Homo sapiens: one gene and its partner. The protein of the gene in region 1 purifies or fractionates together with the protein of each later gene. This does not show direct contact. Each region holds a gene or a part of one and is shown in the gene's direction. Other genes may lie near its edges.

Region 1 (14,857 bases):
CAAAATAAATGTCAAATGGTGCCAATTCTGGATCCTGTCTCACTGGCTAGGACTTCCAGAACAGTGGCAGCAATTGTAGTGATCTCGTATTTAGCTGGGTCCCATTTAGTCGGTCTAATCAAAAGAGATAGGGCTATAAGAATACTGTCAATAAAGGAGTCATCCTCAGGCTCACTGTTTCCTGAGATAGAGTGCTGACTTTTCCCACCAATCCCTTACTATGTCCCCTACCCTATAAATTCAGAAGATAGAAGTTTGTCCTACCCAGTTTGAGAATAGAACTAGACAGAAGGCTGCCATTCATTAGTGAGTAATTGGTCATTAATAACCAAGCATGCTTGATCCAAATTTTCATTATAATGGGGCTTATCATCATCAAATTCTGCTAATTATTTTATTGTATTTCTGGCTTTCATTGTAGCTATTAAAACACCTACTTTAATTGCTTCTTTGTAGGTTATTTGTCTTTTTTTCCTCTTGGCTGCTTTAAAGATCTCTTTTTTCTTTGGTGTTTTGGCATTATGACAGCTCCAGGAATATATTTAAAAATTTATCCTCTTTGTGATGCACCATGCTTCTTGAACTTACATATTTGTATCTTTCCTAAATTCTGGAAAATTCTAAGGAATTAACTTTTGTAGTATTGCTTCTCAATTTTTCAAATCTATCCTTCTTGAAATCCGATTTTTTTATATGTCAGATCTTTTCAGTCTAACTTCAGTACTGTTTAACCATTCTCTGTTCATTCTGAATAATTTTTTCAGATATGTTATGGTTTACTAATTATCTGTTTATAATCTGCCATTCGACCTGTCCATTGAGTATTTTCATTTCAACAAATATGTGTTTAATATCTGCAAGCTTCATTTGATTATTTATCATATTTGCCTGGTCATTCCTGATGGTCTCTTTTTGCTTGCTCATTGTTGTGATTCTGTCCCTTATTTCTATTTCTTTCTAAATAGATTTTCTCTATTTCACAGCTGATAAAATTTTAATATCTGAATTTATTGGAAGTCTAAATATTTGTTATTTCTTCTAATTTTGCACTTATGGTGACTTGCTTCCTTTATGTCTGGTGATTTTTGATGGTGAACTCACATTGTCTTAATCTTAACCTGGGAATTTAGTGGGCTTAACTAGAAATTTTTTCTTGAAAAAGATTTGTGTTTGAATCTGCTAGGACCGTTGGGGCACTACCAGTCTAAATGACTTTTAGCCTTTTTGGTTTCTAGATTAGCACAGAGGTCTCAGATTCAGCTCTTCCATATTGCTGTTGATGTAAGCCTTGTTTTCTGAATACAGTTCCCTGGGGCATTTTCTCAGCTTAACCTTTTTATTCTTAAATGCCTACTATCAGAAGATCTTGTTTATTTGTGGGGAAGAGATCTGGAGAATGAGATGTCAGGAGGACACATGGAAATTTCTCCTACTTTCTTCAAGTTCAGTAATGCATAGATAAGTTTTTTTTTTTTTTCCAGAATCTGGTCGTTGTGCAGTGGAAGGGTGTCCCAGATCATCTAGCTCACAATTTTGTTGAAGAAGAAAATCCCTTTTAACTTAAAAAAAAAAAGATTTAATTTTTTAGAAGTTTTACATTTGCAGAAAAACTGAGAATATCGTAGAGAGAGTTCCCATATACCCTGCACCTAGTTTTCCCTATTATTACGATCTTACATTAATATGGTTAAATTGTTGAAATTAGTAGACCATTACTGATACATTAACTGAAGTCCATAGTTTATTCAGAATTCCTTGTATTTTACTATGTCTTTTCCTATTCTAGGGTTTGGTCCAGTATGTCACTGATATGGTTAGGCTTTGTGTTCCCACCCAAACCTCATCTTGAATTGTAATCTCCATAATCCCCACGTGTTAAGAGAGAGACGTGGTGGGAGGTGATTGAATCATGGGAGTGGTGTCCCCCATGCTGTTCTCGTGATAGTGAGTGATGTCTCATGAGATCTGATGGTTTTATAAGTGTCTGACATTTCCTCTTTCACGTACTTGCTCTCTCTCCTGCCGCCACGTAAGACATGCCTGCTTCTCCTTCCGCCATGATTGTTAAGTTTCCTGAGGCCTCCCCAGCCATGCAGAACTTTGAGTCCATTAAACCTCTTTCCTTTATAAATTACCCAGTCTCAGGTATTTTTTATAGCAGTGTGAGAACAGACTAATATAATCACTTTACAAAGCTGTTATATCTCTTTAAGCTCCTCTTGGCTGTGACAGTTTCACAGCCTTGTTTTGGTTGACCTTGACAATTTTGAGGAGTATTGGTTGGATATTTTATAGGATACCCCTTTACTAGAAATTTTTATTGTGGTCAAATATACATAAAATTTACCATGTCAACCATATTTTAATTTGGTGGCATTAAATGTAATATATTCATAAAGTTGTGCAATGATTTAATAATCTTTATCCATTTTCAGAACTTTTTCATCATCTCAAACAGAAACTCTGTACTCATGAAAAAATAACTCCCTATTTTCCTCTCTCCCTAGTCCCTGGTAAACTCTGTTTTCTGTCTCTATGAATTAACCATTTCTAGGCACCTTAAATAAGTGGAATTATGCAATGTTTGTCCTTTTGTGTCTGGCTTATTTCACTTAGCAAAATGCTTTCAAGTTTCATTCATGTAGTAGCATGTCTCAGAATTTCATTTCTTTTTAAGGCTGAATATTATTGTATTGTCCATTCTATGTATACACAAATTTTGTTTTTATCATTTTATTAGTTACAGGAGAGTTTTATTTCTTCTTTTGGATTTTCTTTTTTAAAAAAATTTTCTTTATAGACATTCATGTCATCTATACACAAAGATGGTTTATTTCTTCCTTCCTTATCTGTATACTCCTTATTCCCTTTTATTGTCTTATTGCACTAGCTAGAACTTCAGATGTAATATTAAATAATAATGATGATAAAGGACATGTTTGTGTTGTTCCTGATCTTAGGGAGAAAGCATCCAATTTCATTAAGCTGTAGATATTTTGTGGAAGTTCTTTATCAACTTGAGGATATTTCCCTGTAGTCCTAGTTTTCTGAGAGTTTGTACCTTCAGGGGTGTTGGATTTTGTCAAATGCTTTTGCTGCATGAATTTATATGATCATATAATTTTTCTTCTTTATCCTCTTGATGTGCTGAATTCATTGATTGATTTTAGAATATTGAACCATCCTTGTATACTGAGAATAAATCCCACTCCATTGTGTTGCATAATTCTTTTTAGACATTGTTGGATTATATTGGCTAAAATTTTGTTAAGGGTTTAAAAATCTATATTCATGAGGGATATCAGCTTGTAGTTTTCCTATAATGTCTTTAACTGCTCTTAGTATTAGGGTAATGCTAGAGTCATGGAATGAGTTGGGAAGTGTTCCTTCTGCCTTTATTTTCCCAAAAAAGATTATGTAGAATTGTTATTTCTTCCTTAAATGTATGTTAGAATTCACCAGAGAAACCATCTGGGACTGGTGATTTCTTTCTTGGAAGGTTATTGACTCAATGTCCTTGCCTACTCAGATTATCTATTTCTCCTTGCATGAGTTTTGGTAGTTTGTATCTTTCAAGTAATTGGTCCATTTCATCTAATTTATTAAATGTTGGGGTATAGAGTTCATAGTATTCCTTTATTATCCTTTTAATTTTCATGGGACAATTGATGACTTATTTTCCATTTCTAATGTTGGTACTGTATTGTTTATATTTTTTAATTTTCTGTATATTATGATGTTTAGACATCTTTAAAAAATCCTTTCTGGCTTGGGAGAAACTGCTTCCTCCTGGGGCAAGCCAATTCTTAGCTAAGCAAAAGGGCTTAGCCAGGGAGCATGGCTTTGATATATAAAAAACTAATATGAAGCCATACCTCTTCTGTCTGGTCCATATACAACAGGCCTTCCTCTGTCTTAGCCATTGCAGAGCTATGTACCAGATAATTAAGGACAACCTTTATACTCCGGGGCCCTCTGAAATTATTCATAGTAGCCAATCCTAATGGGTTTACTCTACCTTGCTTTTCCTGTGGAAACTCCAATAGAGGCTCTAGTCCAGGTTTTTCTCTTCCTCCTGTTTTCTGCCTCCTGACTATCCCGAGGCTTCCCCATGTAACCCTGTATGGCATGGCATGCGTCCTATTTCTAGGACCTGTGAGTATAATAAATGTTGTTTTCCTCTCATGGCCACACCTGACTGACCATCACAGAAAATAACACAGAACAGGTTACTTGGATCTTCTCTTTTTCTTGGTTAGCACAGCTATAAGTTTATTGATTTTAACTAGATTGTGGTTTCTGTGATTTTCTCTATTGTTTCCCTGTTTCAGTTCCATTGATTTATGTTCTAATGTTTATTGTTACTTTTCTTTTGCTTTAAGTTTAATATTTTTCCTTTAGCTGCCTTGAAGGTAGACATTCAGAGTTTAGATTTTTCTTCTTTTCTAATATATGCATTGAATGCTAAGCACTCCAAGCACTGCTTTCATAACATTCCACAGGTTTTGATAAGTTATATTTCAAATTTTATTTAGTTCAAAATGTTTTTTTAATTCCTCTAGATATTTACTTGATCCATGTATTATTTAGAAGTATGAATTTAATTTGCAAATATTTTGTGGGTGTCCAGCTGTTTTGTTATTGATTTTTAGTTTAGTTTTATTGTGCTCTGGGACCACAATAAAATAGTTTGTATAATTTCGGTTATAGGTTAAAGTGTGCCACCTCCCCCTCCCTACCATATATTGAAGTCCTAACCCCCAGTACCTGTGAATATGGTCTTTACAGATGTAATCACGTTAGGATGAGGTCATTAGGGTGGCCCACATCCGATATTACTGGAGTCTTCATGAAAAGCAGGAATGCCATGCAAAAGCAGAAACACACAGGGGAAATGCTACATGATTATAGAGGCAGAGAGAGGTTGTAGTGATGCAGCTGCAAGCCAAGGAATGCCAAGAAGTGACAGCCACCATAGAAGCTAGAAAGAGGCAAAGAAAGAGTCTCCCCTGCAGGTTTCAAGCAAAACATAGTCCTGGTGATACTTCTAGCCTGGTTTTGGACTTCTAGCCTCCAGACCCATGAGACAATAAATTTCTGTTGTTTTAAGCCACTCACTTGGTGGTGCTTTATTACAGCTACCCTAAACTATATAATTTATATTCTTTTAAATTTATTAAAGTGTGTTATGGCTAGAATGTGTTCTAGCTTGGTGAATGTTCCATGCGACCTTGAGAAAAATGTGTATTCTGCTGTTATTGAAATGAGTATTCTATAAATGTCAATTAGATCAAGCTAATTGATGGTGCTGTCCAGAGCAACTCTTGCTGATTTTCTGCCTGCTTAACCTGTTAATTACTGAAGGAGTAGTATTGAAGTCTCCAAATATAATGATGGATTTGTCTATTTCTCTTTGCAAGTCCTACCAGTTTTTGCCTCATGCATTTTGACACTACTGTTAGGAGGATTTACACCAGGATTGTTCTATCCCCTTGGAGAATTGACCTCTATCATTAATGCTCCTCTTTGTCCCTGATAATTTTCCTTGTTCTGATGTCATCTTTGTTTGAAATTAATATAGCGACTCCAGCTTCCTTTTGATTAGTGCTAGCATAGTGTTCCTTTCTTTATCCCTCGATGTTGTAAATAGTTTATTTTTAAGATGTTTTAACAGCTTGAGTGATTTATTTCACATATCTATATTTACCCATATAAAGTGTACTATTAATTGGCTTTTAGTGTATTCACAGAGTTGTACACCATCAACACAATTGATTTTAGAATATTTTCACTAGCGCCCCCCAAACCCTGCAACTCCTTAGCTAACCCTCCATCATCTGCCAAGCCTAGACAACTACTAATCTACTTCTGTCACTATGGATTTGCCTATTGCGGACATTTCCTACAATATGTAGTCATATTGAAATAGAATCCTATAGTATGTGATCTTTTGTGAAAGAAATTAGATAATACTTGGTCTTTTGTGAATGGCTTCTTTCACTTAGCATAATATATTCAAGGTTCATCCATATTGTGGTATACATGTACTTCATTCTTTCTCATTTCTGAATAATATTCCATTGTATGAATATACCACTTTTTATTTAATTACTAATCAGTTTATGACCATTATGGGTTTGTTTTGCATTTTGGCTGTTATGAATAATCCTGACATAAACATTTGTACATATACTTTTCATGTGGGTGTGTTTTCATTTTCCTTGGGTGTATACCTAGCAGTGGTTGCTGGATTGTTTGGTAACTCTGTGTATAAACTATTGAGGAATTGCTAGACCATTTTCCACAGTGGCTGCACAATTTTCCCATTCCCACTAACAGTTTATGAGGGTTCAAGTTTCTCTACATCCTCCTCTACACGTTATTGTCCATCCTTTTTTTTTTTTTTGAGATGGAGTCTCCCTCTGTCACCCAGGCTGGAGTGCAGTGGTGCTATCTCGGCTCACTGCAACTTCTATCTCCCAGCATTTCACCATGTTGGCCAGGCTGGTCTCAAACTCTTGACCTCTGGTGATCTGCCCGCCTCAGCATCCCAAAGTGCTGGGATTACAGGTGTGAGCCACCGCGCCTGGCTATCCATCCTTTTGATTATCGCCATTCTAGTGGGTGTCAAGTGGCATTTCATTTTGGTTTTAATTTTCATTTCCCTGAGGACAATACTGAGCATCTTTTCATGTGCTTTTTGCCTACTTGTATATGTTCTTTGGAGAAATCCCTATTTCTTTGCCCATTTTTAACTTGGGTTGTCTTTTTTAAAAATTTTTTTAAATTGTTTTTCTTTTTTTTTTTGAGACAGGGTCTCACTCTGTGACCCAGGCTAGAGTGCAGTGGTGTGACCATGGCTCTTTGCAGCCTTGATCTCCCTGGCTCAAGTGATCCTCCCACCTCAGTCTCCTAGTAGTTGGGACTACAGGCATGTACCACTGGACCCAGCTAATTTTTATTTATCTATTTCCTTTTTTTTTTTTTGTAGAGATGGAGTCTTGCTGTGTTGCCTTGGCTGGTCTGGAACTCCTGGGCTCAAGTGATCCTCCTGACTTAGCCTCCAAAGTGCTCATATTACAGGCATGAGCCACTGCACCTACCTATTTTTGAATTTTAATACTTCTTTATATAGTCCAGACACAAGTTATTTATCAGATATATAATTTGCAAGAATTTCCCCTCTTCCTGTGGTCTTGTTACTTTATTTATGGTATCTTTTGAAACTAAAGGTTTTTAGTTTTGATAATGTCTAGTTTATCTATTTTTTTTTCCTTTTTTTTGTTTTTTTCTTGAGATGGAATTTCGCTCTTGTTGACCAGGTTGGAGCGCAATGGTGCAATCTCAGCTCACCGCAACCTCTGCCTCCCAGGTTCAAGCGATTCTCCTGCTTCAGCCTCCCCAGTAGCTGGGATTACAGGCATGAGCCACCACACCCGGCTAATTTTTTTTTTTTAGGAGTGGCGGGGTTTCTCCATATTGGTCAGGCTGGTCTTGAACTCCCAACCTCAGGTGATCCACCCGCCTTGGCCTCCCAAAGTGCTTGGATTACAGGCATGAGCCTCTGTGCCCAGCCTCTTTTTTCTTTTCTTTTTTTTTTTTTTTGCTACTGCTTTTGGTGTCATATCTAAGAATCCATCAAGGATTCTCAGAATTGTAATTCAAGGTCATAAAGATTTACACCAACAGTTTCTTTGAAGAGCTTTAGAGTTTTAGCTCCTAAGTTTAGGTCTTTGATACATTTTAATTTTTGTATATGGTGTGAAGTTAAGGGTCTAATTGCATTTGGATATCCAGTTGTCTCCCCATCTGTTGAAGACAATTATTTTCCCATTGAATGGTCTTGCACCCTTTCTAAAGATCAGATGACCATACATCATATCACGGTTTATTTTTGGATGTCAATTTTATTCCAAAACAATTGAAATTGTTAACCGCTTACGTGTTTCAGGCATGATCCTAAGCACGAATTCATTTGCTTCTCATAATAACTGTGAAGTGGGCACTATTCTCACTTCCATTTGACAAATGAAGTGGCCGATATACAGAGTGATTTGCCCAAGGCCATATAACTGGTAAGTGGCAGTGCCAGGATAATAATTTAGGTTGACTAACTTGAGAGCCTGAGTCTTAGCCATGCATGCTGTAAACAAAAATTAGAAATCAAAACTTCTGAATTCCACTGAAGAGCTCACTTTAAGCAAACGGGGTGAAGGTCGGATTAGCCACTAACGGTTTGAAAAGCACAACAGGGAGGGATTGCCTCACCAGCTTGCTTTCTATAGAGTAGCGGCAAAGGACCTGCCTGTTTTGGCTGAAACTCTTTCAACCCCCACAAGTTGAGAATTTGCACTAACTAAGTCGAATTTGCAGTTAGGAAGCCTTCCTGGGTTCCTGGGACAGCGCCGAGTGCTGCGAGCAAAGGCCGAGCCCGCTGCCAGAGGCTCGCGCCGCTCGCAGCACAGAACCTGAGAGTGGGAAGGCGTAGGCGCCCGGGCGGGAGGCAACCGGGATGTGGAAACTCTCGCGGGAAGATGCGTCGTTGCCTCGGTAACCGCGTCGCAGTCGCCGAAGATGGCGGGGCGAAGTCTGTGTCTCACGGTCAGTTCAACTCCAGGCTCCTGGGGAGCGTCTGGGTTCCGGCGACTAGGACGCCTAACTTCCTTTAACTTCGGGTCTGAAAGTCTGTGGCTCTTTTACAGAGAAGCAGCGTTCCAGGGACTCCGTTCCCGCCACCCGTTCAGCAACCCTCTACACCTGGACCCGACCTCCTCGCCTTGGAGGAAGAATATAAGTAAGAAATTCGGCGGTTGAACTTTTCCTTCTTTCTTTCATCTGAATGAGGCTGCTTACAAGTACTTTTTTCTGGAGACTGGCTGGATCTTCGGGACCACTCACTCTGCAGCATTCCCTTCTCGTCATCTCGTTCACCTGCCGTTTATCCTTTCTTTGTCTTTGATCTGAGTAGTTCGCCTGCGTATTAGAAGATATTTGAAGTGGGCGAAAATTTAGCCCAAGTAAGCATGTTGTTTAATTTAAAACGTAGCCCAAGTAAACAGCAAGATACTGTTGGAAGTTATTTGGGTAGCAGGAATTGCCACGAATAGTTAGTTCACTTGATAGTTTAGGTTATTTCGCTTAATATCAAGTTCATAGAGTTTACCTTGTGTAAATTTCCTTTAGGTTGGTTTCTAAATTGAAAGGATGCTTCCCACTGCAATCAGAATTACCATTCTCGTTCAAATATTCCTTTTCTTATCTGTTCTCAGTGTAATTACAACTATCCTGACAACGGTGCTTTCATTCTTGGCCCATTCTACTCCTCATCCCCAAGTTTTCACACAGCAGCCAGTGTAATCTTTTAATTTGATCTACCATGCCTTTGCTTAAAATTCTACAGTAGTTTCCTGTTGCATTTCAAAAGCTCTGATCGATGTGGCTCCTCCTGCCTCCTCTATTTGATCTTATTCCCTCTTCCCCTTTTCCCCCTAAAACTCTCCAGCTTCACTGGCCTTTTAGTTCCAAAAACTCTTCCAGGTTTTCTTTCTATCTCAGGAAAGAGACAGTCACACACGCCTTCAACCTGTAATGTGAGTGGCCTTCCTTGACCATGCTAAGTAGGCTCCCTTGTTGGTCTTTTTCATTGTCTCAGTGATTTTTCTTTCTAATTAGCATAATTTGTTACAATAAATTCATTTGTGAATTTCCTTTTTGTCTGTCTCCACTGGACTGTAAGTTCCAAGGGCAGAGGCGATGTCTGTTTTATTTGCCATCATACATACCCTTATAAAAAAGTGCCTTTTAACAACTCCCTTCCGTTTTAATATAAAATAACTAGATTAAAATTTGGAAATAGTTGGCAGTTTGTATCAGAGGGTTAAACTAGAGTTATCGTATGATCTACATATGATCTATAAGCATATTTGAAATTAAAACTGAAAGGTACTGTGTTTAGGTGAACTATACACAGACCAATTTACCACAGCAAGTAGGAAGATAATCATATCTTCTTCTCTCTGATGAAATGGGCCGATTATCCCAGTTCAAAAGTGTACTTAAGCAAATTAATCTGTTTTCTATATATAGTTCTTTATCAGCTATGCCTCAATCAAAACGGTTATTTTCATTATCATTAACCATATAGTATTAAATACCTGGATTAGGTTTATTTGTTCAGTTATTTGAGAGTGTATTTTGCACCTGGTTCTGGTGCATCCTTAGGGATACAGTCCTGCTTAAAATGAGAAATATACAGGGACTATTATTGTATTCTAGCACGAGTTACTTTATAAAACGAGATAGCTAAACAGTATTATATGGTGGCCAGTTGTTACTTGTTCTGTTATCTGTACTCTGAGTTGTGCACATCTGAAGCATATGAACAGAGTAACTCCCTACACTACCTGAATCTTCTAGAATACTTCTGTGTCATGTAGAAGAGTAAAATGTCTGGCCATCCCTGTAAGCAAGAATATGAAATTATAACAGTATGGTATCTGTTTTGCCACCTGTTGTCTTGGCATTGATCATTAGAATGCTACTTCCCAGGGACCTCAATCCAAAACCTTTTGCAGTTCTGCTTCTGTTGGAGGAAATAATCACTGTCCGAAAGGATAGACTAAGGAAGATGCTAATCGCTCAAGTGGATAGATTTTTCAAGCTTCATTCCTGTATTATAATACCAGATAGCTAAACAATAAGATAACATAATAACTGGTAGGGCAAGCCCCCTCATAAATCGCAATTACATTGGATTTACAGATTAATTTGTAGAGAACTGACTTATTTATGCTATTGAATTTTCCACGAATATGATACTTCTCCATTTATGGGTTTTTACCTTTAATAGTGTTTTATCATTTTACTACATAAAATTCTTGCGTATATAATTTGCTTCAAGGTACTGAATAGTTGCTATATAATAAGTGGAATTTTTTCTATTTTCTAATTGGTTATAAATGTAGAATTTTTAGATGTTGATGCTACATCTGCGTTTATATACACACAGATCTTCAGTCCTGCTGAACTCTCTTATTCATTCTGTGAATTCCCTTGGATTTTTGATGAAGACAATTATATGCAAATTTTGATCATTTTGTCCCTTGATAATTCTCCTACATTCTCTCTTTTTCTCTGTTTAGGACTTCCCGTGTGATATGGAATAGAAAAAGTGATGGTGAGCTTCCTTGTTTATGATTTTGAGAAGCCCACTTTTAATAATCACTACATTTGAGGTTTGCTCTAGGGTTTTGGTAGATTCTTTTTATTATGTTTAAAATTCTTCCCCTTAATTCCTAATTTGAATGAGTGTTAAATGTATCAAAACTTATTTTTTCCCTAATTAATTCAGCTGTTGGTATGTTCTTTTTCCCTCCTTTAATGTTTTAACATACTGAACTACAAAGGCAGGTTTCTTGTTTTCCTTTAAAGACTGCTAGATTTGATTGCTATAATTTTATGTAGGTTTTTTGCATCTATGAACAAAAGTGAAATGGGTGTTGTAGTTTTTCTCTACTTCTTTTCCTTTCTGTTTTTGATATCAGTATCATTCTGTCTGTATGAAAGAAGCCGAATAGTTTTCCTTTTTTGATTCTTTTCTTGGAAGCTTTTTATAATTAGAGATTTTCTGCCCTTTGATTAAAATTGTGAAACTGTCTGAGTCTAGTGTTCTTTTATTCAAGGGGATTCTTTTTGTCTATGCATTTAGCTTCTTTAATGATTAGATGTACTATTTCTAGAATAGTTTTTGGTTATTTCTAAAATAATTTTTTGTTCTAGAAAAGTGTTCATATCATGTATGTTTTAAAATACATTAGCATAAACTGAGTCTATGGTGGTATGTTTGAAATCTTGACTGTATCCATAACCATGTACACCCCTCCTTTTGGTAGCTTTCCAATATTGTTTATTTTTGTCTTTTTCTTTTTCTATCAAGCTTCCTGGGAGATTTATCTGTTTTATTGGTCTTTTCAGAGAACCAGCTTTGGTTTTCTTGCTAATCTGTGCTATTTTAAAATTTCATTAATCTTTACAGAAATAAAGACAAATGATCTCTTCTAACTGGGGTGGATTAATTTTTTGTTTTTTAGTTTATTTACCTCATTTATTGTTTTTCTTATTTCTTAATAAATATATTTAGTCTTTAAATTTCTCTCCAACTGTAGGTTAACTATATTCCAGGACTTGTTTTGATGTATATTTCTTTTATGGTTATTTAGTTCTAAATATTATACGATTTTCATAGTAATTATTTAGAAGTGTGTTTTTTAGTTTGCAAGCACATAGGGTTGTTTGTTTACTGTTGTCTAGTTTTTATTTTTCTGAGTATGTATGTGACAAGGTCTTGCTCTGATGTCCAGGCTGGAGTGCAGTGGTGTGATTATGGCTCATTGCAGCTTCCACCTCCTGGGCTCAAGAGTTCTCCCACCCCAGCCTCCCGAGGAGCTGGGACTACAGGCGCATGGCACCATGCCATGCTAATTTTTTTTTTTTTTTGAGACAGGGTCTCACCCTGTTGCCCAGACTGGAGTGCAATGGTGTGATCTCAGCCCACTGCAACCTTCATCTCCCAGGCTCCTGAGTAGCTGGGACTACAGGCATGTGCTAACATGCCTGGCTAATTTTTGTATTATATTTTTTGTAGTGATGGGGTTTCGTCATGTTGCCCAGGCTGGTCTTTAACTCCTGGTCTCAAATGATCCACCTTCCTCGGCTTCCCAAAGTGCTGGTATTACAGGCCCAGCCTAGTTTATTTTAAATTGCATTATGATTAGAGAATTGATGTGATATTAAGTTTTTAAATGTATTGAGACTTATTTGTGGCCAAGTGCTTGTTCACTTTTTGTAAAAGTTCTATGCGTTCTTTGATAGAAAATGTATTTATTATTTGTTGGCTAATCTGTTTTATATTTGTTCTTCATGACATCGGTATCCTCACCTTTTTTCTTGTTGCAGCTTTATTGGTTTCTGTTAGAAGTGTATTAAAAATCATCAATTATAATTATAGTTTAAAAAAATTCCTTATAATGTGGCCATTTTTGTTTGGGAATATCTTGTTTGACTTATTTAAATCTTCTTGATTCATTATTATGCAGTGTCTATCTTTCTTCATCCCTTTATGTTCAAACTTTGTATGTCATTTATCAGTAAGAGCATTCTTTTTATAACCAGTCTGATAATTTCTGCCTATTAATAAGTGAATTTAATATATTTACATTATTACATAACTTGAAGTTGTCTTAGCCACCTTATTTTTTATATTTTCTATTATGTCTTGTCTTTGGTTCTTGTCTGTCTTCTGCTGGATTGAATGGGTTTTCATTATGTCTTTATTTTTAGTGATGTGGAAAGACGTTAGAATGCTTTAACTTGGTGTCCTCTGTCTTTTAAATTAGATAATATTTTACTTTGTTGTTTTGAATACACCCACACCCAGTTAATCATCAATTTTTTTATAGTCTGTACTAATTTAGATTTATCATGTTTTCAGATATCTTCATAATTCTTTTTTTCCAGATTCAATTTCCTCCTTCCTGAAGTGTAGACCCTTTATTACTTTTTGTGAAAACCTGAGTCTTAAACTCTCCAGTCTTTTTGAAAATTGTTACTTTGCATTTATTCTTCAATTACAGTTTATCTGAATGTAATTCTAGATGGCCAGCTTTTCCTTCTCAGCCCATTAAAGATATCCTTATATTGTCTGTTGGTAATATAAGGATAGAAATGTTAGAATGTCAGAAATGTTAATGAGCCATCTGCTGTCAGCTTTTTAGATAATTATGCTGGTAGACTATTTTTCTCTGTTGTTTTGAAATAATGATTTGGTAGTTTAGGGAGTACTCTCTTTAAAATTCTGTATTTTCACTGTGATGTATACACAGGTGGATTTGTTTTCTTTATTCTTCATGAGATCCATGTCTTCAGTTTGGGAAATTCTCAGCATTAGCTCTTGAAATACTGTCATTCTCTCCTCTTGGGATTTCTTTTTTTCTCTTTTGGAGACAGAGCCTTGCTCTGTTGCCCAGGCTGGAGTGGCAGTGGCACGATCTTGGCTCACTGCAACCTCCGCCTCCCAGGTTCAAGCGATTCTCATTCCTCAGCCTCCCCAGTAGCTGAGATTACAGGCATGCAGCACCACACCTGGCTAATTTTTGTATTTTTAGTAGAGCCGGGGTTTCGCTATGTTGGCCAGGCTGGTCTCCTGGCCTCAAGTGATCCTCCCTCCACCTCCCACTGTGCTGGGATTACAGATGTGAGCCACTGCACCCAGGCCTCTCTGGGATTTCTTTTATAACTTCTGTTAAGTAGGAACATAACATCTGTCTTCAATGGATGTTAACCTGTCTTTTGTGTTTTTATCCCCTTGTTTTCTGTATCTCCTTGTAGGTGATTTATTTATATCTGTCTTCTAATTCACTCATTCCTTCTATGCCCATTATGCTGTTCAACATATCTGTCAAATTTCCTTGAGTTCTTAATTTCAGTGACTGTGTTTTTCATTTATGTAATTTATATTTGGATCTTTTTCAAATTCAGCATTCTTTTATGATAAAATCTGGCTCTTGCCTAATGTTTTTCTAAGTGCATTTTTTTTTTCCAAATTAATGCTAATTTTAAAATCTTTTTTTAATTGTTATATTATCTCTTGTTCTTATAGTATAAATTTTCCCTTTCCTCACATCTGCTGATTCTCTCTTTCAGTGGCTTGTTTCTTTATGCAATTTGTTACCTTTCTGAAGTCATCTTTAGCAGTTTGCTTTTTGAGAGAGTCCTATATATTCTAGATGAGTAAATGTTCCTATAGGGTGGTTTTCAATTTACCTTTACTAGTTTCGAGTTTTGATTGATTCCACGTCAG
Region 2 (15,072 bases), on another chromosome or scaffold:
ACTCCTGGGCTCAAGCAATCTTCCTGCCTCAGCCTCTTGAGTAGCTGGAACTACAGGTGCACACCACCACACCCCACTAATTTTTAAAATTTTTTGTAGAGATGGGGTCTCACTATGTTGCCCAGGCTGGTCTCAAGCTCCTGGCCTAAAGTAAACCTCCTACCTTGGCCTCCCAAAGCCATGAGATTATAGGTATGAGCCACGGTGCCCAGCCAAGAGCTTTTTTTTAGTGTTTTTTTTTTTCTTTTTTCTTTTTTTTTGAGACAAGACTGGAGTGCAATGGCATGATCTCAGCTCGCTGCAACCTCTGTTTCCCAGGCTCAAGCGATTCTCCTGCCTCAGCCTCCCGAGTAGCTGGGATTACAGGCGTGCACCACCACACCTGGCTAATTTTTGTATTTTTAGTAGAGATGGGGTTTCACCATGTTGGCCAGGCTGGTCTTAACTCCTGACCTGAAATGATCCACCCACCTCAGCCTCCCAAAGTGCTGGGATTACAGGTGTGAGCCACCGTGCCAGGCCCGTTTTTTTTTTTTTTTTTTTTTTAATGCCCATTGGCCCAGCCAGCCTGAGTGGGGCGGGATGGCAGTAATGTGCCCTGGCTTTAGAGCCAGGCAAATCTGGGTGCAAACCCTCCTCTTGCCCCACCACTAGCTGTGCGACCTCAGCACATTTAAGCCCTGTATGAGGCTTAAATGTGGTTATAGGTACGAAGTTCTTGGCACATAGTAGGCCCTCATGCAGCTCTCACCATTTTGGTTATTTGAAATATGTCCACTTCAACCCTCTATGAGCTCAGGCCAGGCAGGAACCACACTTGTTTTTTTTTCTGCCTGCACTGCCTGGCACACAGAAGGGGACTGACTTGTAAGGGCTGACCTATCAATTTTCCTGGGCTGGGCAGACCCAGGCTCCCCTCCCCTCCCTGCCTGGGTGAGGCTGGGGTAGGCCCGAGGGCCCTACACCTGCTCCCTGAGACTGACCCAGCAGGCTGCTGGGTGCCAGCATCCAGCATCAATAAATTACTGGTGAGTTCAGGTGACGGGACAGATCCAGTGTCAGCTTCCTTTGTGTCCTGCAGAGAGGCTCAGGCCCTGGGATCCCCCTTCACAGGCCTCCCCCAACAAGGGCTCCATCAAAATGACAGAGTTGCCCACCTACTGTGTGCCAGGCCCCACCTAGGCACTTTGCACCGTATTTGATTGACGCTTCACAAAGATTCTGCAAAGCAGGCACTAGCTCCGTTTTACAGATGAGGAAACCGAGGCTTAATGAAGGGAAGTGACTTGCCAAAGACAAAATGAATATAAGCAAAAAAGGCCCCTGCCTCTCCAATTCAGCAGAAATCTTCCTGGATCTCATTGCAGTGTATAGTCAAAATACACACACACACACACACACACACACACACACACACACACACACACACTCTCTCTCTCTCTCTCTCTCTCTCAGGGATTTTCATTCATTCATTTATTCAGTAAACACATATGGGACACCTACTACGTGTCAGGTATTGTTCTGGATGTTGGAGATACTGCAGTGAACAGGACAGAGCTCTGCCCTCTAGGAATGTACATTCCAGTAGGTGAGATGAACAGAGACAGGAAACAAATACATATGTATTATAAAGGAAGGTGGCACTGAGTCCATGAGGATGAATCAAGTAAGGAACGGGAATGGAGGGCCACTGGGGGACTTTTAAGAAGGGCAGTCAAGGAAGGCTCCTCAGGGGAGGTGACATTTGAATGAAATCCCTCGACAAATTAGTTCTCTTATCTCTTTATGCTTTAGTTTCTGGAAAAAAGGGGATGCTGGACTCGAGCGGGTCTCAAACTCTGCAAGGTGGACAGAATTTTTTCCCACTCAGTCGTAATTCCACAGGCAGTGTGGCGCGGGCCACTGCAGGAGTAGAGACACTTTTCTCCTCCCCTCCACTTTGCCCAGTGCTCCATCTTCTGGTCCAAAGGACCCTTAGGGCACTTAGAGTGGGACTTCTCGAAGGTGCTGATCTGGGCGCCCCGCTCCCCTGCCATGTGTTCTCATGGCAACTTTTTTTTTCTGAGACAGAGTCTCACTCTGTTGCCCAGGTTGGAGTGAAGTGGTATGATCTCGGATCACTGCAACCTCTGCCCGCTGGGTTCAAGCAATTCTCCTGCCTCAGCCTGCGGAGTAGCTGGGATTACCGGTGCCCACCACCACACCTGGCTAATTTTTGTATTTTTAGTGGGCGGGGGCGGGTTTCACCATATGGGCCAGGCTGGTCTCGAACTCCTGACCTCAGGTGATCTGCCCACCTTGGCCTCTCAAAATGTTGGGATTACAGGCGTGAGCCACCACACCCAGCCTCATGGCAACTTTTTGTTTTTAATTCTAAACCCATTTGTTATGATTTTTTTTTTCTTTTTTGAGACAGTCTCACTTTGTCTCCCAGGCTGGAGTGCAGTGGCACAATCATAGCTCACTGTAGCCTCTACCTCCAGGGCTCAGGCAATCCTTCCACCTCAGCCTCCCAAGTAGCTGGGACTACAGGTGCACACCACCACCGCTGGCTAATTTTTTTGTACTTTTTTGTAGACACGGGGTTTGGACATTTTGTCCAGGCTGGTCTTGAATTCCTGGGCTCAAGCAATCCACCCACCTTGGTCTCCCAAAGTGCTGGGATTACAGGGGTGAGCCACTGTGCCTGGCCTGTCATGATCTTTTGAAAGTCAGCTAGTCCCTGAGCTTCATGGGTCAGGTCCCTCTTGTTTATTACTGTATTCCAAACACCAAGCATGGTGGCTGACATACAGAAGATGCCCAAATAAACGTCTGAATGATGGATGGGCATAATGACAATAGGAGCTAGCATTTGTTGAGTGCTTATTCTCACGACAGCCCTGTGAGTTAGGGATAATTATTAATATTCCCATTTTATCGGCATTGAACACTGAGGCTTAGAGAGATTAAGGGACTCAGTCACTCAACAGCAGAGCCTGTTAGGAGAAGCACAATAAATGCTGATGGATGGATTGATTATGGAGGAAGCATAGTAGCATGGTGGAAAATGCTGTAGACTTCAGTCTAGCACCTGCTTTTTGAGGATAAGCCCATTCATTCATTCATTCATTCATTTGGTTGGTTGGTTGCTTATTTATCCATTTATTCAATAACGTTTAAGCCTTAGCTCCTGTGCTGGGCACTGGTCGACACAGGTAATGAGGCCATCGTGAAATGCTGTGGTCAGAGCTGGGAGGGGGAAAGCCCAAGGCTCTATGAGTGACCAGAGAAAGCCCCTGACCCAACCTGAGAGGTCAGGAGGCCTTTCTAGAGAGGTGGGCGTACAGCAGCGGCTCAGCATGGCTGGCAGACTGCAGGGGGATGCTATAGAATAGGGGGATGGCAGGTGGTGGCACAAGCCCTTGATAGAAGGGGCACCAGCACCCAGTGGTGGTAACTACCTCTCCCCAAGGCTCTGGGGCCTCTCTGCTCTTCCTGGCCCTTGCGTGGACAGGCCTCTGTGGGAGCCTGAGTCACTCTGCCCCACCCCAGGCCTGGAACTTCCTGTGGCACAGTCAGGGCCACCTCACTGTCAAGTTGCAGGCATCCCCGCTCATCTGGGCCCAGGGTCAGAGCTCAGTGAAAGGCAGGTGATCTGGGCCAAATCAGGCAAAGGCCAGGTACCTGGTTCTGTCCTGCGGCCCTGAGCCTCTTTGCTCCTGTGGGACTCAGTTTACCCATCTATCAGAGGCAGGGTTTGGACTGTATACTCTGAGAACCCTTCATCACCAAGCTCTTGTGACCCATTACATTACTATCTGTATTCAGAGTGGACGTGAGCCCTGGGGGCTTGGACTCCCTGTGCTTCAACTCCAGTCTCCCTTGGACACCTGGACGAAGTGTGGAAAAAAAAAAAAATCCAGAGGCCGGGCATGGTGGCTCATGCCTGTAATCCCAGCACTTTGGGAGTCCAAGGCGGGAGAATCACTTGAGCCCAGGAGTGATTACGTTACTATCTGTATTCAGAGAGGACGTGAGCCCTGGGGGCTTGGACTCCCTGTGCTTCAACTCCAGTCTCCCTTGGACACCTGGACGAAGTGTGGAAAAAAAAAAAAAAATCCAGAGGCCGGGCATAGTGGCTCATGCCTGTAATCCCAGCACTTTGGGAGCCCAAGGCGGGAGAATCACTTGAGTCCAGCCTGGGCAACAAAGAGAGACTCTGTCTCTACAAAAAATAATTAAAAAAAAAATAGCTGCGTGTGGTGGTGCATGCCTGTGGTCCCAGCTACTGAGGAGGCTGAGGTGGGAGGATCACTTGAGCCTGGGAGGTAGAGACTCCAGTGAGCAGCAATTGCACCACAGCACTCAGCCTGGGAGACAGAGCGAGACCCTGTCTCAAAATTTTTAAAAATGCAGAGGATCTCCTGGCCTTTGATTCATGGGGCAGCCTACTTTTTCCTTTGGCAGGTGTCTGGAATGGAAATCAAAAAAGAGCAGCTGCCCCCTGGGACCGTGATTGCATCCCCCCAGGAGTTGGGCATTGTGGGAGACTTACCCCACACCCCACCCAGCATGCCCCTCCTAAAGGACCCCAGTGACACGGATAGGCTGAAGACCCAGGGTCTGTTTCTGCAAAAGTGGGGATGGGCCGCAGTAGGCTGTTCTCACTCCTTGGCTGTTCCACTCTCCCAGGAGCCCTTGGGGCAAGAGGCTGGGACGTGCCTGGTGCAGTGAGCTGTCACACAGTAGGGACACCTCCAGGCCTCTGACCTCCAAGACCACAGACCTCTGGACCCCTGCAGCTGCCCTCCTCTCCTCACTTCTTCTCTACCCCACAGTCCTGCTCGTTTAAAACTCGCCAGTAGCTCCCATAGCAGCTGGAATGCCATCCAAAGTATTTCCCAGGGTCTTCAAGACTCCTGCCCTCCAACCCCTCCTCCCTCACTTCAGTCTCACCACACTGGACACCTTCCAGCTTCTAGAAAATGCCAATCTCCTTCCACCTTGGGGCTTTTGCCCTTGCTCTTCCCTCATCCTGGAATGCAGGAACAGCATGCCTTGGCACCTGTCATTTAAGTCACTGCTCAGATGCTACCTCCTTAGAGGGGCCTTCCCTGATCCCCCTAAGAAAAGCAGCCCCTTCTTTGCATTATTTGCTATCACAGCTCTCTCTTTCCTTCGTGGCCCATTCCCCGGGCTGTTGTGATCAATAGCTGGTTTGTTCAATAGCCATCTTCCATACCCATTGGTGCACTCCCGTAGGGCAGGGACCTTGGGGATCCCATGACCATATCCCAAGCCCCTGCTGCACAATGGCTGCTAAACAAATGTTTGTTGAATGAATGAAGCACAAAAAGTGCCAACAATGCCTGTCTTCCTCCTTGAATACTTCGAGGCCCCATGAGGGAGAAAATGGCACTTACTGGGCACCCGTCACAGCTCAGGCACTCTCATCCTGTTGAATCTCTACATCTGTGACATCCTGTCCCGCTATACAGATGATGAAGTAGGGGCTCAGTGACCTGCCTGAGGTTACCCAGCAAAGGGTGGAATGATGGCTTCATTCCATTGTGAAGTAGCCAAGTGGGACCTGTGAGCATGAAGAATGCCACGCCAAATAATCATCAGGATTCACTTCCAAATCTGACTCCACCCGAAGCCCATGTTCTTTTCATTATACTATACATTCTGCTGTGCCAGAACTCAGCCCAAGATTGACAACCAGGTTTTTAGCTTCTGAAAGGCAGGCAAAGACCCAGCCTGGGTGGAGAGGTGGTCCGGCTTAGTGGTTATTGAAGTGGGTCCTGGAACTGGACAGAGAGACCAGGGCTCACACAAGGACCCCACCACCCAGGCACAGGGCATATTTGCCACAGTTATCATTACCATTGCCAGGCTAGAGCATCTCTGCTCTCAGGAAGAGTGTGCTGGAAGGATAACCGTCAAGGGACACATGGAAAAAGTCAGGGTCTGAGCTTCTTAATCACAGAAGCCCCTGCGCCCCTGGGGCTGGCCTTTGGGTAGTGCCTTCCCCGCTCTGAGTGGTCACCTCTTAAAAACGGGCATGCATACCAGCATAGATCCAAAAAGAGCTCTTGAGAAGATAAAGAGGAAAAATGACTGTGGAGTTGTTGGTGTATATAAAGTAACATGAAATGTAAATTATCTAAAAATAATCTCCCATGTGAAATGCAGAGAGAGGTTGGGGCTTGGGAGACCTCTAGGGTTCTTTCAGCATTTACTGGCACCTACTGTGTGCCAGGTGTTGTGCTAGGGCCTGTGCATATGAGGATGGGTCAGATATGGCCCTGAGCATCTGGAGCTCCCTGTCTACTGGGGGAAGTGAGCCAGGTATACACAGCGTGGGGCTCTCTCCGAGCGCGGTGAAAGGGGAAGAGTTTGTGTGTGATATGGCAGCAGCAGCCAGATGCACATGAGCTGAAACCCACCCCTCCTTCCTGCATGACCTTGAGCAGGTCAGGCCACCTCTCCAAGCCCCAGGTCTTCGTCTGTAAAATGGAGCCATTCCCTCTGCCTCTCAGAGTTGCCAGGACATGGCACGTAGTAGGTCCTGGGGTGGGGGACTTTGGGATGGGAGTAGACAGTAGTTCCTACGCAGGAAACGGTCCTGCACTAGACAAAGTCTGGGCCTCAGGACTTGGATGGTGACTTGCCTGCAGGAGTGTCATGGGGACATGGGGTGGACCCCCGGGGACAGCTGGGAGAGAAGTGCAGCAATTCCTCATGACCTGTTAAGGAAGTGGGGGGTAGGGGCACAGAAATCCTGGGGAATTGGCCTGTGCCTTTATTTATGTTGGTAATTTCATTAAGGGGGAGGGGACCAGCTAGCTCTACCCAAGGTCAGATCTGCCCAGGTAGGAGGGGGGCGGTGGGGCTACCTGAGTTTACTCAGCAAGAGATTCTAGGTCAAGGCGCACTCAGGAAGGCAGGGTGTCTCAGGATGAGTTTGTGGATGTGTTGAGAGTTTTCTGAAGCGGAGGTGGGATTGGGCTGAGGCCACAGGCGACTTCCCAGGGGGCCTGGGCCTGTCCCAGAGCAGTGGGGCAGGCAAGCAGAGGCAAAGCTGGCCAAACTTCGGGGAATTCAGGGTGAGGCAAAAGGAGAGGAAGTTTGGGGGCCCCGAAGGGCGGCGATGTGGGGTTCCCCCAGGGGAACACTGCTCTTCTGGCTTCGGCTCACGGGAGAGGTCAAGTCACTTGCGGGAGCGAGGGAGGGGGAGCCTGCCCTACACCTTCCCGGCCTGGCTAAGTGGGGCGGGGCGGCCGGGAGGTCGGCGTCTGGGCTGGGGTCTGCGCCCTACTCCCCGCGGGACCGCCGCGTCCGGGAGGAGCGGGGCCTGCGAAGCTCCGGGCCCGGCCCGGCCAGACGGAACGCGGTTCCTGGGCTGGGCACTGCGCGCCTGTGGTTCCTGCCCTCCCGGCGGCTGCGGGCGCGGCTGCCCCCGCGCCCCCAGGGGCCGGGCCGGGCGGGGGCTGGGCCCGGCGGGCGGGCGCAGGAGGAAGGGGGGGGCGGGCGGCGGCGAAGGCTGCGCCGCTCTAACAGGTGGGATCCCGCGGCGTGGTGGAGGCGGGCGCGGGAGGAGGAGGAGGAGGAGGAGGAAGAGCCGCGGCAGCGGGAGCCTGAGCAAGAGCAGGATGAGCCGCGCAAGCTGACAGCCACTGCTGCCGCCCGCGCCCAGGCTCGGTCTCGCTCCCAGCGCTCGGGGCCGCTCCCCGCCTCCCGCCTCCCCCGGCCGCCCGCGGGGCGGCCCGCCCCCTCTGCACCTCCGGGCCCGGAGCTGCCTCCATCGCTCCTGCATCCCGGCCGGGGGGAGGAGGAGGCGGAGCAGGAGGCGAGCCGGAGCCGCCGCCGCCAACGCCGCCGCCGCCGCCCGAGCAGGACAGAGCGCGCCGCAGCCCCGCGCGTCCGGCCGCCGCCCGCGCCCATCCAGCAGCCTCGCCGGAGCCACACCGCGGGACAGACGCGGCCGCGGCGCGTCCCGGCCCGGTCCAGCCCAGCCCAGCCCAGTCCCGGCACCGGGCGGCCCGGCGGCCGGCCCGCCCCCGAGGGCGCCGGGCGCGGCGGGAGGATGCCGAAGCCGACGCTGCTGCTGCGCGGGGGCTGGGAGCGCGAGCGCAGCCCCGGGGACTCGGAGCTGGGCCGCCAGTTCCGGGACTGGTGCTTGCGCACCTACGGCGACTCGGCCAAAACCAAGACGGTGACACGCAGCAAATACCAGCGGATCGCCGAGGTCCTGCAGGGCGGCGGCGGGACTGGCGCGGGCAGCGGCCCCGCAGCCGGCGAGAAAGGCAAGTTCCAGTTCTGGGTGCGCTCCAAGGGCTTCCGCCTGGGCAGCGGCCGGGAACCCAAGATGGGCCAAGTGGTGTATGTGCCGGTCAAGACGGGCTCGGTGAGTGCGCGCGCGGCGGCCGCGGGCGGGTCCCGCCGCGGGGCTTGGGGCAGGCGGGCGGGGGCGGGGTGGGGGTGTGGATGTGTGTCCGAACGTGTGTCCCTGAGGTTGTCCGTGTGTCGGGCCCGCCGGAGGCGCACGCGTCCCTGCTCACCGGCCCTTCCCGGCTCGCCTGGGCAGCGCTCCGGGTTCGGGGCGTCCCTGCCCCCCTCCGCGCCGCTGCCCGGGCCGTGGCCGTGCCGGGCAGGCTGTCCCGGGCTGCTCACCCCAGCATGTTCCGTCCTCTTGTCCCCTCCCCCCGCCAGCAGGCGGCTGCTCTGGAGCCCGAGCCTCCCCCCGCCCGCCCCGGGGCTGCCTGTCCCGGGCGCCTCGCGCTCCCGCCCCCGGGCCGGCTGGGCGGTGTGTGTGTGTGTGTGTGTGTGTGTGTGTGTGTGTGCGCGCGCGGAGGGTGGTGCCGCGGGGTGGGGGGGGGGGAGGGAGGCAGGGGCAGCCGCGGGACGGGGAGTCCGCCGGGCCTCCCAGCGCCAGGGGAGGGGGCCCGCCCGGGCACTGTCGCCCCGACCCCACCCGGGGCTGGCCCGGGGAGGGGCGGCCGGAGCCGCAGCCTGGCGCAGGAGCAGCCTCCCGCGGGTGGGTGGGGCGCCCCCTCAGCCCCCCGGGCCCCTCGTTCCCCCTTCATGGGACGGGGGAGGCCTGACCTATCCATCCCCTCCCCTCCCCCGTCCCCCGGGCCGGCCCGGTCCGGGCGGGGTGGCGTGGGGGAGGGGGCGGGGAACCGCAGCCGCCTAAAGGGAGGAGGCGGGCGGCCGGGCGGGGGCGTCCCCTCTGGCCCGGGGCGCCCTGGAGAGGGCGTGCGGCGCGGGCCCCGCGGCTCCCCCGCCGGGACCTCATTGTTCTGCAGAGGGTGGGGGCTGGGGGGGGGGCGGCCGCTCCCGGGGCGCTGCTGAGCTTTGAACTTTCCGTCGCCGAGACCCTCCATTAGTGCGTTCCGCCCCCGGCCCGGTCGGGCCGCGCCGGCCTCCCCCCGCCCTCCTTGCTCCCTCCCCGGCCGGAGCGCGAGAGCCGGGCCGCCCCGCGCCGGCCTCCCTCCCTCCCCCGCTCCCCCGCTCCCCCCTCCGCGCTCCTCCCCCGGCCGGCCCGCCCGCCCCGCGCTCAGCCCCGTCCCCGGCCGGAGCGGGCTCTTCACACACAATTGATTCGGTCGTTACGAAAAGTGCACTTGTCCCCTCCCCCTCCCCCTCCGCGGCCGCCCGGGCCGGGCCCGCGGGGTGAGGGGGCCGCGAGGGAGGGAGGCGGGAGCCGGGGAGCAGATCCGGAGGCGCCTCCCCCCGCGCCCAGGGGACGGGGCTGCAGGCCGCGGGGAGTGGGAGCCGCGAGCGCGGAGGGCGGGCGGCCCATCTGCGAGGAGCGCTGATAACCGCGCTGCGGCCGCCAGCAGCCCATCTGCGCCGCTGCCGCCTCCGGCCGGACCGGGAACAGGGGGCCGGGCAGAGGGGCGCGCCGGGACCGGGCTCCCCGAGGGGGAAGCTGGGGCAGTGACCCAGCCCGCGCAAGGCTGGGACCCTCCCAGCCTAAATCAGCACTCTCGCTCAAACCCGGCGAGTCTGGGTCATTGTCCCCTCCCCCGATCGAGTCCAGGACCCCTCCCCCAGCCCAAATCAGTGCCACTTTCCCAGATGGGGAGTATGGGTCAGCCCTCCCCACCCTGCCAGGTCGGTCCCCTCCTCGGTTCTCCCATCTTGGGTCACTGCCCCCCGCCGGAGGGCGGTTTTTCTGAGGTCAGTGACCCACGAGATGGTTGGCTGGGTCTTGCCCCCTACCCTAGGTCAGTGCCCTCTGCCATCAGGGCTTCCCGGGTCGGTGCCCCACCCCACCCCCCCATCCTGGTTACACCTCCCTGAAGAGCTGGAAGCCTTGGCCCAACCTTCTTAGTCTGAGGCAGGAGCCCTGAGTCCACCCTCTCCTGGAGTTGGGGGGTGACCCCCCAGACCTGGCAGCTGGCTCACTGGCTTTCTGTGTGGCTCGACTTCTCCCTAGGGAGTGGGCATCTGGAGCAGTCGTCCACTCTTTATCCACACAGCTGTAGAGGCTGAGCACCCCCTCCCCCTATCCAGGCCACATGCAGAAACTGGGTGCTGGGCCTGGACCCCAGGTCCTGCCGGCCCAGCTGCTGGCTTCAGATGCTCCTTGAGACCCACGCTGACCCGCTCTGCCTGCCCCTGGCAGCGCGACCGTCCCCAGTCTCCACCCTGGCTCTCAGACCAATAATGAGCCCTCCCCAAGGGACCACCTGCCTGGGAGGCAGAGAAAGGGGACCCAGGCCTCCCAGTCCAGGCTGCCAGGAGATCGACAAACACAACAGACGTGCCCTCCCTCGACAGCCCGCCCCTCGGGCTCCCCACGCCCGCCTGCCTGGCCTGCTGGTCCCGAGAGCCCGTCAGTTACCTGCCACTCGCCCAGCCAGCCGGAGCCAGGCAGGAGATGCCACCCCCATCTCCAAGTTCTTTCCTGGGGCCCAGTTATTATTTTTATATTTCCATTTTCCTTTTCACTGATCCAAGAGGAACAAATCCTGCTGGGAATTCTGGGGCAGCCATTGGCCTCTTCCTGGGAGGGGCTGAATGGGACCTCCTTTGAAAGGTGCAAAGGACGTCTCCCTGGCCTACACACACACACACACACACCCCCTCACCCCTGGTGTCATTTGGGAGAGAGCCTGTAGTTTGGTCCTCGGTGGGTTTTTGTGAAGGTCATTGGGCCATAAACCTTTGTCAAAAGCATTTGTTTAGTACCCACAGTCCTTGTGCGGGCACTGGGGTGCTCGGGTGGGTGGGGCTGTGTGCCTGCTCCCAGGTCACCCAGCTGTCGGGGGTGGTGGGCATAGCTGAGGACAGGATAAAGAAGCCCATGGGGGCTTCAAGAGAGAGCAGGTAGAAAGATTCCAAGGAAGAAGGGAGGTGGGAGTTGGGTCATCCAGCAGACAGGCCCCATATAGCCTCTGTCCCCAGGGTGGCCATGGTGTGTCACCTCTCTTCCCCATTGCTCTCTGGCTGCCCCCACCCTGGGCCTCCCTTCCTCCTCCCACAGCCATATGCGGTGCTGTGGTCAGGGCCCTCTCCTAGTCCCGGCCAGCCTCGGGTCGATGATCTGACACCACTTGTCCTGTCCCATCTGGCCCTGAGCTTTTCTGGGTGTGTGTGACAAAGGCTTAATCTGTCCGGACGGGCCCAGGGCAGAGAGAGGGCGAGGGGAATTACACTCCACAGGGCCTCCTGCAGCTGGGGCCCAAGTGGGGGTGGGGCAGGGCGGGGGTCGAGGAGAAGCCTGGGCGTGGGGGAGAGGCAAGTTGGCCTCCAGTTTGCAGGTTGTCACAGGAAGTAGAAGGTGGAAGCAGGGTATGGAGGAGAGGAGGGCGGAGTCCTCCACGGGCAGCTAGGGGTGCTGGTGGGGATAAGATCTCTTTATGACAAGAGCCAGCTGGGGGCCTCCTGGCCGGGTGAAGCCTGGTGAGGATTTATTATTTCTTACGTTTGGCCTGCTCCAGGCCTGTGGGCTGCCAAGCGGGGGAAGCAAACCCCTTGGAGACAAGACCCTCCAATTCCGTTCCGGCATTGGCCACAAAGTAAAACAACCCCTTTCCTTTTCCTCTGGCCTCTCTGAGTGGAGCGCGTGGAGCCGTCCCCAGAGCCTGCGAGGGCCACAGGTTACGGCTGAGGTGGGGCCCTGGGCTGTCTGTCAGTTCCTAGGATCAGAGAGCCCCAAGTCTCCGTGGAGAGATAGAGGTTCTCAGCCCAACTGTACCATCTTCCAGATGGGAAAACTGAGGCCTAGAGAGAGGAAGTTTCCATTTGTTGAGAGCCAGGACTGGAACAGGGTTCTCTGTGCACTGCTGTAGCTTCTCCGTGGACCTGCCACATGCCAGGAATCCCACCGTTAGAGCCCCATTCCCCAAGGGAAACTTCGAGATTGCCAAACTCCACTCTCAAAACCAGGCTTTTGCAAGCTGGACCCCAGGTGTTCCACTACCCAAATTGACTAATGGTGGTCTTTTCCCAGTTTGCAACAACGTTCATTTAGTGGAAAGCATTTTGAGGCCTAAGTCTTTCTCCCCAGAGCTTTTGTGTAAACCTTTGGCACCTGCGGCCGCTGGTCTGGGCGGGAAATGGCCTCTGACTTAGCACCGCGTAATATGTGCTGTGACCTTTGGTTGAGTCCCTCAATATTTCCTGGTTTTCTCTGAATTATCAGTATAGCGGCTGTTTCGGGGGTCACCTACTGTGTGCCTGTCACTGGGCTGAGGCGCTGATACGCATCAGCTTGTGGAATTCTCACAGCAGCCTAGAGGCCAGTGCTGTGATTACTGCTACCTTCACATGAGTAAACTGAGGCTTAGGGAGGTTCAGAACTTCCCCTAGTCCACACCAATGCCAGGGCCTTGCATACATCTCCATTCTGACTTTGAAGGGTCTTGCAACCTGATCCAATTTGAAAGCACAGGTCCTTCATGTCAAGCTTTCAGTCCATTACACTTTAGTCTGAATTAGTTTCAAAGCATCCCTCTGGTCAAGAGGTCTGTATTCACAGGCTGCTGCCTGAGGCAGGACTGGCACAACATAAAGTCTGTGGGCTTTCCTAGGGCTCATGAAGATGGGTGTGGGGTGGGGAGGAGGGAGGATGCCTCTGTTGTCCTGGGTCCTGGGGGGGCTTTTGGAAGAAGGTTGACAGTGATGCCTGGCACAGGCTCCATTTGCATTTTTTGTGAGTGGCAGAGCGTGCGTTTTTGTCAGTTACACGTTGTGATTTGGGTGGCATGGTCCTGGGTAACTCTGGGGGGCTGCATTTCGGTGCCAGGGTGATGCAGACAGGTCAGGCTCTGCCTTCCTGGGGCCTCCCCTCTAAGTCCTGGGTCACTGTCTGCTGAGGGGTGGGGACACCGTGCACCCTTCTTCCCTGGGTAGGAGCTGGTAGGAAAACCCTCTGCTTTATGGCCCCTGCAGGCTGCTTTGTCGTCCCTGCACGTCTGGGAGGCTGGAAGGCCCATCTGGGACCTCAGAAATGCTGCTGGGAGGATTGGGGGGTGGGGAGCCTGTGGCTGGGGGTGTCTGGGGACCAAGTGGAGGGCCTCAGGCATACCTGGGCTTCTTCAAGCCAGATCTTAGCTCAGAGGTTGTGCGACTGAATCCTGAACATGTGTGTGCTCACGGGCTAGAACACGCATGTGCGTGCATGTGTGTGTGTGTAAAAGTGCAACTGTGTGGGTGTGAGTGTGCTGTTCCTATCTATGTGCAGGCTGGAAATGCTTGTGTGTGTGTGCGTGGAGTGTGTGCAGGGCACAGGTGGAGAGGCTCCTCTGCGTGTTTGTCGGCATCTATGTGAGCACCTGGGCTGTGGGCCTTGGCAGCTGCGGGTGTGACTGCGTGTGCTTGCACTCATGTGAGATCTGGATTGGACTCACCCTGTCTGTCTGCCAGTGTGGTGCTGTTGGGATGTCCTCCATCATCACCAAGTCACCTGAGCTGCTGCCCTGGCCCCTGCCATCCCCGGAGTCTCAGCAGCTGGCTGAAGCCAAGAGGTGGCCATAAGAGGTGGTGCCATACCCCCGTCCCCATGACTGCAGCCAAGGCATCTCCTTGTTCCAGCTTCCCACTGCCACCCCCTACCCGCCTCTTGCTATGGTCCTATAACAAAGCCCAAAGCCAAGCATGGGGCGGGAAGGTCCTGGGAGAAAAGGCTCTGAACTTGAAGTGAGGGGGCCAGGGCCTATGGGGTCCTAACTCAACTGTTTAATTCCCACATGACCACGGGCAAGTAGCCTGCCTGGCCTCTCTCAGTCTCAGTTTCCTTTTCTGGAAAATGGGCTCTAAAACTCCACTTCTTGGCAAACTGGAAAAGGCTCTGCTGTCATTTGAGGATGGTGGCTAAGGAATGTGCTTGAGGCCACCCTGCTCACTCATGTCAAAGCCAGGCCTACCAGCCTGGGGACATGGTGAGACCCCGTCTGTATGCAAAATTTTAAAAAACTCAGGCATGTTGGCACGCACCCGTAGTCCCAGCTACTCAGAAGGCTGAGGCAGGAGGATCACTTCAGCTCAGGAGTTAGAGGCTGCAGTGAGCTGTGATCATGCCACTGCACTCCAGCCTGGGTGACAGAGGGAGACTCTGTCTCAAAAAAAACAGAGAACGAGGCTAGGCCCATGGGCCCCAAAGCAGGTAAAGAAGCAGCTGGAAGTTGGTGACAGCACCCACCAGGGCCAGTGGCTTATTAGAACAAGAACTCTTGAGTCCACTTTGATGTAGAGAACAGGTAAAGGGCCTGGGCTTTAATGCTACAGGACCCTGGGTTCAAATCCCATCTCTGCCCTTTTATCAGTTTGGCCTTAATTTTCCTTCCTTCCCTCCCTCCCTCCCTCCCTCCCTCCCTCCCTCCCTCCTTCCTTCCTTCCTTCCTTCCTTCCTTCCTTTCTCTCTTTCTTTTTTGACGCAATATTGGCTTACTGCAACCTCCGCCTCCCATGGCCTTAATTTTCTCATCAGTAAAATGGAACTGTAATCATATTCCTCTTCTAGGAGTGATGTGGAAATTAATGCTTTCATGCACGTAGGGCCCCCAAATGTAGCAAATCTTAGGAAATGTTAGCTGCTATGTGATCTCACTGAGCCTCAATATTCCTCATCTGGAA

What was found.
Region 2: the proteins of TEX9 (region 1) and NOL4L purify together in Homo sapiens (affinity purification with mass spectrometry; 3 studies listed by BioGRID and IntAct, with this or other methods). This does not show direct contact.

Annotation. Positions count from the first base shown.
Region 1 is NC_000015.10:56,356,877-56,371,733, forward strand, and holds the start of TEX9 (testis-expressed protein 9), read left to right. Parts: upstream 1-8,549; 5' UTR 8,550-8,574; coding exon 8,575-8,601; intron 8,602-8,702; coding exon 8,703-8,794; exon of another isoform or gene 8,795-9,017; intron 9,018-11,131; exon of another isoform or gene 11,132-11,176; intron 11,177-14,857.
Region 2 is NC_000020.11:32,577,890-32,592,961, reverse strand, and holds the start of NOL4L (nucleolar protein 4-like), read left to right. Parts: upstream 1-7,628; 5' UTR 7,629-8,071; coding exon 8,072-8,392; intron 8,393-15,072.